Homo sapiens: one gene and its partner. The protein of the gene in region 2 interacts with the protein of the main gene of each other region in a pairwise test. Each region holds a gene or a part of one and is shown on either strand. Other genes may lie near its edges.

Region 1 (3,915 bases), on a different chromosome or scaffold from region 2:
ATATGGCTAGCCAGGTTTCCCAGCACCGTTTGTTGGGAATTGAACAATGAAAACACTTGGACACAGGAAGGGGAACATCACACACCGGGGCCTGTTGTCAGGTGGCGGGAGTGGGGAGGGATAGCATTAGGACATATACCTAATGTAAATGACGAGTTAATAGGTGCAGCACACCGACATGGCACATGTATACACATGTAACAAACATGCACATTGTGCACATGTACCCTAGAACTTAAAGTATAATAAAAAAATATATATACATATACATATATATATGTATATGTATATATATAAAAGGACTTCTTGAAAGGATGGTCCCTGGGTGGCTTAGGTAAGTGGCAGCAAGGCTGGCTAGCCAGGCTTAGGAATCTAGGACATGCCACAGGACCCCTGATGGGTGGGTGGCTGCGGCTGCCAGAACAGGACCCTGGATGTGGCTACTGGCATTGCTGCCATCATTGCTGGAATGAATTAGATACTGTCCTGCTTCAGAGTGCGCAGGCCCAGGCCCAGAAGAAAGCTTCTGATTGGCCCAGCATGGCTCAGCTCCACCAGGACACAGTTTGGGCGCCTCAGCTGACCTCACAATGCAAGGCAGGGCTGCCTCCCACCCAGCTCACAAACGTGGTCTCAGATGTTGGGTATCCCCCATGCCCCCGCCAAAAGCACTCCAGATGACAAAAATCCACTACAAAGCTCTTCTTTAAAAAGAAAGATTCTGAGAAGTTCCATCAAAAGAAGAAAAGAAGAAATGAAGGTGATTGATCACCATATTTGCTTTTTCATTTTTAATTTTTTTTTTTGAGATGGAGTCTCTGTCACCCAGGCTGGAGTGCAGTGGCATGATCTCAGGTCACTGCAACCTCCGCCTCCCGGGTTCAAGTGATTCTCCTGCCTCAGCCTCCCGAGTAGCTGGGACTACAGGTGTGCACCACCACACCTGGCTAATTTTTTTTGTATTTTTAGTAGAGACAGGGTTTCACCATGTTAGCCAGGATGGTCTCGATCTCCTGACCTCGTGATCCGCCCGCCTCGGCCTCCCAAAATGCTGGGATTACAGGCTTGAGCCACCACGCCCGGGCCATATTTGCTTTTAAACCAGTATTGAAATGCAGTTCTCTGGACTCCAGGCTCAAAATCATGTAAGGTCGCCCAGGCTGGAGTGCAGTGGTATGATTATGGCTCACTACAGGCTCAGCTTCCTGGACTCAAGTAATCCTCCTGCTTCAGACTTCCGAGTAGCTGGGACTACAGTTGTGCACCACTACGTTTGCTAATTTAAATTTTTTTTTTTTTTTTTTTTTTTTTTGTAGAGACAGGGCCTCTCTATGTTGCCCAGGCTGGTAGCAATTCTTCATTGAGTACCAACTGTGTTCCAGGCTCTGGGGATACAGAAATAAGCCAGGGACCTGCACAGCAGCTGGGGTAGATCAATTCAAAGCAATATGAAAAGGGCATTTGGGGAGCTTTCACCTTACATGTGTTATTTTCCAATGTGTTTGGGAAGCCTGAAGTGTCCTTGGAAAGTGACATGAATTGACTAGGCGGGTACTCCAGGATCAGAGTACTCCAGGAACAGAACTGTTCTCAAACTTTGTTTGAAGGATCAGTCCCCAGGAAAGCTTGTTAAAAATGCAGATTAATGGGTTTCATCCCAGAAATTAGGTCCATTAATAGTCTGCATTTCAACTAAACACCCCATTTTATCCCGAGACAGATGCTACTCTCAGTGGCTCTCGGACCTAGTGGGGTTTAGCTGGTAAATACTCAGAGCTTCTGTTTTTGGCACAACCTATTAAACCCGAGATAAAAAACTCTTCCTCTTTGACTTGACTTTAATCAGTTTCTAGTATTTCATAGTTAGTGAGATATTAATACTTTCTTAAAATGTACTTTAAAACTTCAGAGGGACCTACATTTTGGAGCAAGATGTAAAGAAATCTGGAAGTGCAACTGCAGTTGCTGTCTATCTCAAGTCATTGTCTCCCATCTTTGCTGCGGTGAGCAGTTATGTTTCACTTCACTGGGAATTTCCCTTCCCCTGCTTTGTCACTGAGGGAGTTGGAGAGCCTGTTTGTTCATAGTTCTTCCCTTGGCAGTTTCTCTCTGTCCTGGGCTGAGGTTTGGTGGAATTACCAGAAAGTGGGCCTTCTCAGCATCTGAGCCTTTAATCCTTCCAGCTGCTGTGCTGGAGGCTTAGCTCTCTGCCTGTCCTTTAGCAAAAAAAAAAACCAAGATAAAGTGTACATGTGGTGTGTTGTGCTTGCAGTAGATGTTTGAAGGGAGCCCTTTGGAAACACCAGGGTCAAGGTGTCTATTGTGGATGTGACGGTGGGCGTAACCTGAAGCGTGGGCCTGAGGTTAGTACTGGCAGCCACTTGGGATCTGAGCAGCCCATGATTTGACAAAGGAAGAATTTGGGGCCCTTGTATTGGTAGCTTTGTGCAGGAGTAATTGGAGTGGGACAGGACTTAGAAGATGAGGCAATGGAGGGATTAGATATGAATTAACATCTTTGTTCAAATAGCTCAAGAAATCCCATCTGTTGTCCAAAGCTTTCTTTGACTTGGAATATTGGTAGTGGGTCCTCTGGCTTCTTGCAAAGTATGTCACCTTCTTCATCATCCCCCTTCCCTTTCTTACAGTATGTGTTTCAGGAGCACCCTGTACTTATCTTGAAAGTTAGTAAGTATGTATCTAGCTCACAAAGTGACAGCAGCTTGCTCTTGCTCCAGGACACTTAATACAGAGAGGAAGAGTGGTACACTTGGGATCCTTCCAGGTTCTGTGCTGATTTGCCTAGTCTCATGAAACCGCACAAGGAAATAACATATTTTGGCTTCTACGCCAGCACTTGCCCTGTAGCTCTGGAGCAGGCTGTGTTTGGTTTCCACCCACCTACCTGGATTAGGCTGAAGGCCCTGCTCTAAAGCTTTGCAGCCTCCTGTCTGGGGCACTTCTTGCTGCAGGCAGGTTACATGCATTGGTGACTCTGCTGCTATTTCTTTCCCTGCCAGGGATGGTGCCATGAGTGAAACAAGCTGCTCAGCAGGCACTTACTAAACACCGACTACGTGCCATGCCCAGTGTTAAGGTCTGGGGATTGAAAGAAGAGTAGGACAGAGTCCATCTTGGAGGCACTTTCTGTCCCATTCCCTTCCCAGATGCTGGAGCCACAGCTGCTTTTAGGATTCTTGTGTCTTTCTCCGTCTCCCAAGGGGTAGGTAAGAGTCTCCCTCTGCCCTGGCTTTCATCTCTGAGACCCCTAGTTGTAGAGGTGGTGACTTAGGGTGAAGATTTCCATCAGGATTACTTGGTAAGCTTATTAGAAAGACAGGTTCCAGTGTTGCACATGTGTCCAGCCTCAAACGGTGTGGTCCCTAGACTTGAGGCCATGCCCTTCTACTTTGGATTCGGGGTGAGGTGGAGAGGGGGATGTTTGAAATGAGATTAGTGAGTAAATAAGTAGAATATAAGGCAGAGTAAGATATATCTCCAGCGGCAAAGAGAACAACACACACTTGGAGAAGAAATAAGCATATAAGCATGTACTGGATTGCTGGGGCCCCAGTGGCTCGTACTAGAGCCTGAGAGGGAGGGCACTGAAGGGACAGTGTCTTGATGTCATAGTTAGATCTTGGACTTTGAAGGCAAACTAGTGGGTTTGACTCTTGGCCGCATGGTTAATTGAAGGGGTGGGTTGCCCCTCCACACCTGTGGGTGTTTCTCGTTAGGTGGAACGAGAGACTTGGAAAAGAAAAAGACACAGAGACAAAGTATAGAGAAAGAAATAAGGGGGCCCAGGGGACCAGCGTTCAGCGTACGGAGGATCCATCCTGGCCTCTGAGTTCCCTTAGTATTTATTGATCATTCTTGGGTGTTTCTCAGAGAGGGGGATGTGGCAGGGTCACA
Region 2 (3,915 bases):
GACCCCAGGAAGCTACCTCTGAAAAGCATGCTCCCCTTTGAACCCTGCTATGATGTTCCCCGAAAACCTGTGGCTCCTCAATCTTAACTACCCGCCAAGGCTCACAACTCCAGAACATGAGGCACATGCAGCATTCACCTACTGCGTCTTCAGAGAAGCAGCAGTTGGGAGGACAGCCTTTGCCATTTCTTTAATTTTTTTATTATTCATTTATTTATTTATTCTGAGACGGAGTCTCACTCTGTCGCCCAGGCTGAAGTGCAGTGGCGTGATCTCAGCTCACTGCAACCTCTGCCTCTAGGGTCCAAGCGATTCTCCTGCCTTAGCCTCCAGAGTAGCTGGGACTATAGACACACACCACCACACCCCGCTAATTTTTGTAATTTTAGTAGAGACCAGGTTTCACCATATTGGTCAGGCTGGTCTGGAACTCCTGACCTCAGGGGACCCACCTGCCTTGGCCTCCCAAAGTACTGGGATTACAGGAGTGAACCACCACACCCGGCTCTGCCCTTTCTTTGACCCCTCCCAGACTGGACCATCTTGCTACTCTCTCCAGTCGTTTTCACCTTGATTTCACAGAACAAGAACAGGCTCAATAAAGCATATGTCCACGTGGGGAACTGTCAGTCAGTCTTCCTTTCTTGCACTGTACACACTAAACTTTCCCAGCATTTCTCTCATGGCTGGCTTGCTTTGGCTTCAGAGGGACATGCCCTCCACACCCTCCCCACTAGTTATGCTATGGTCACGGAGGGTGTTACTGTCAGTCCGGCAGAACTGGTTGTGCTTAGAAGTCATTCAGGGAAATGGCTGGCCCCAGGGACTTTAAGGGGATGCTTAACACCTTTTGTTCTCAGCTTTGGGCCTTGGCTGTCAATTTTAAGAAAACCAGTTCCCACTTAGCAACTAACATCAGACTGTTATTTTGTATGAACATATATATCACAAACAATAAATACACACAAATCTCCCTATTTTAACTTAAACCTCTGATTTACACTTTGCTTTATTCATTTTCCCACAAATACTCATCTTTCCAAATTGGCACATATTCATCCTCCCACACCGCACAGTGCTTCCCGGGCACCTGACCCGAACTCCAGCCCCAGGTAGAGAATCCTTAGGATCTAGTCAATCTGTGGTGGTCCTAACCCCCTCTGGTGGCTGGTTCAGGCAGGGGCATGTGAAGCAATTGTGGCCAGTGAGTTTTGAGGGATGACAGCTGGCAAAGAGCTCTGGGAAACAACTTCTTTATGCTTAAAACCACACAAATGAAACATTTTTTCTTCTTCCTCTGAATGTGCTGCTTGGAGCTGCTGTAGCCATCCTACAACTGTGTGAAGTGGGGGACCCATTCTGAGGACAGAGCTGCTGATACCTGGAAGTGGCAAAGTAGAAAATGACAAGAACAAGGATCCTTGGTTACATCATACAGTCCCTGAAATAACTACGGAATTGCTCCACCTGGTAATGCAAGCTAATAATTATTATTATTATTTTAGCCATTTAGAGTTGGATTTTTTGTCCCTTACAGCTAAAGTAAGGCACTATCCCAACCCAAGCACATACAGATGGATCTAACTTATTCTTTTTTGTTCTTTTCAATGGGCCATACACTAATTTACAGAACCTCTCCCCTACTGACAGGCATCCAGATGATTCCTTGAAAAACAATGCTGTAATGAGCATCCTGATATGTATCATTGCATAACTAATCAAGGCTAGCCACAGGATAAAGTATTAGGAGTAGAATGGCTAGGCAAAAGGGCATGTGCATTTTAATTCCAACAGAAGGCAAAACAGCCTTTCAGAGAGGTTGTACTCTTTCTCCACGCCTTCACTATTATCACTATTATCATAGGTGACATGAAACCTATTATTTCATCTCTGCCATGTTAATAGACTAAGTCCTTTTGTTATTTCTTTTGTGTTTTAAAAATCATGAGAAACTGAGATTCTTTTTGTCTGTTTAAAAGCCATTTCTAGTTTTTCTGTGAGCCTAAGAAGTTCTTTATACAAAAGACTTTAAAAGACTTTTACAGATGACATCAAAAGAAGGCAATATGAAGCTGATTTACTTTCTAAAAGATACAGCAAGTAAGGTTCAGGTGCATATTTACCAGTGAGTTAACATGATACAAAATGAGAAGACCTTAAAAAGCCCTTAAAATTGTAAAAGGGGAAAGGTTTTAAACTCCTATTGCAACACTGCATTTTGGAAACTAGTTTTTCTTAAAGACTGCCAAGAATTGAGAAAAAAATGCCACTGATAATGGTGAAATCTATAGTATTCTCAGGCTACAAGCTTTACAGCATATTTTTAAACTCCAGTTAAAGTCAACGGAGGACCACCCACAGCAGGTGTCTCTGTCAGAGACTTCTCCAAATTCCTTGTTATCCAGGATAAAGTTTTAGACTTATCATAGAAAATGCTAACATTTTCTACTATCTCCTCATGCAATATTTACAAGGGACTATAGGCAGGGAGTGATGCTGCAGAAGGTAAGCAAAACCAAAAACCACCTTACCTCGAGGGCCTAGCAATGCCTTGAAATAGGTACTAAGTGATGCATCAAAATGTTCCATTTGAAAACCTATTAAGAAAAAAAAAGATACTGATTAATCTCTACTCAAAATGTTTTTTATACAGTATTTTTTCATAAAAGAATAAATTCTTTTCAAAGAATATGCTACAGACAAGGTTAAGTTCAGTTCCTTAGGTTAAAAGAATTTAATTCACAGAAGTGACTTCTGTGCTAGATCTAACTTGAAGATCAAAAGGAAAGACACAATTCTGTGAGTTCACTTTATAAATGAAGTGCCAGTTTTCTGAACTTCTTTTCTTAGTTCCATAAAAACTCTTTCCGTGAAGCTGAAATCTCAGTGGGGAAAAAAGTGGAACTAACTGGAATGAGAGGTGGCAGACAGGAAGAGATCCTGTCTGGGCAACAACTGAGGACTTGAGGTAAGACAAGGAAGAGCCATATCAGGGAACAGAATGCCACAGTGACAAGACAGTTTTTTCCGCTTGTTACTTTTATCAATTATTATTTTACAGTACTTCATATCTACAGTAAAAAAAAATTCAAGTATTAAAAATTAAAAAAAAGGGGCAAAAATCTCATTACTTCCCTCAACCTCAATCCCCAAGCCACGCATCACAAGGAACCTAATGGTAACATTTCTTCAATATACTTCCAGAGATTTCTCCTCTTTTGAGCACAAAGAGGTCATGCTAAATGGATGTTTTCACAATTGTGGGTGAAATCTACCATTAGTAGATGATCATGTCAACTTAGCATTAAAAATAATAATTGATCATAGTAGAGAATCAGAATGCTTTGCTCTCAGTGAGAATGAATATAGTTTTATAAAACTTTAGTTTTATTATATCATATTTATAAGTATAATGTACTTAGCTGTGATGTAAAATATATTCTTACTGTGGGGATCACAGTTAAAAAAAACTAAAAAAACACTATTATATATAGAAGTGTGTATATATTACTTGCTTATTTTCACTTAATAAAACATCTTGAGATACCAGTTAAAGATTTACCTCCATCTTCTAAGATTCTATAGCTCCCTACCTTCCCCAATTTAAGATTTACATTTAGAGGGTAGCTAATCAACTTTTCATATGCATACTGACTAGATTTTCCAACTTTCCTGGCCATTCTTCTTACAGGAATAATCATCAATATTATAACGTCCAAGGGCAAAGGCAGAACTGATTTTATTAACTAAGCTGTTAATCATTTAGCAATACTTCTCTTCCTTGGCTTGCCACACTGAAGCGTTATGTATTCACTGGCTAATTTTAAGATAAACTACTTTATCCACGAAATCATCTAATGGTTGTAGTAGTTACAATTAAGTCAATCCAGATGAGATGGGACGTAGAGATAGGAG

What was found.
Region 1: the proteins of ELOVL5 (region 2) and PROM1 interact in a protein complementation assay, tested with the Homo sapiens proteins (one study listed by IntAct).

What each region holds. Positions count from the first base shown.
Region 1 is NC_000004.12:16,077,409-16,081,323, reverse strand, and holds part of PROM1 (prominin-1 isoform 1 precursor), read left to right. Parts: intron 1-3,020; exon of another isoform or gene 3,021-3,915. UniProt on the Homo sapiens protein: May play a role in cell differentiation, proliferation and apoptosis. Binds cholesterol in cholesterol-containing plasma membrane microdomains and may play a role in the organization of the apical plasma membrane in epithelial cells.
Region 2 is NC_000006.12:53,293,111-53,297,025, forward strand, and holds part of ELOVL5 (very long chain fatty acid elongase 5), read right to left. Parts: intron 2,598-3,915; 5' UTR 2,590-2,597; coding exon 2,532-2,589; intron 1,382-2,531; coding exon of another isoform or gene 1,173-1,381; exon of another isoform or gene 978-1,172; intron 1-977. UniProt on the Homo sapiens protein: Catalyzes the first and rate-limiting reaction of the four reactions that constitute the long-chain fatty acids elongation cycle.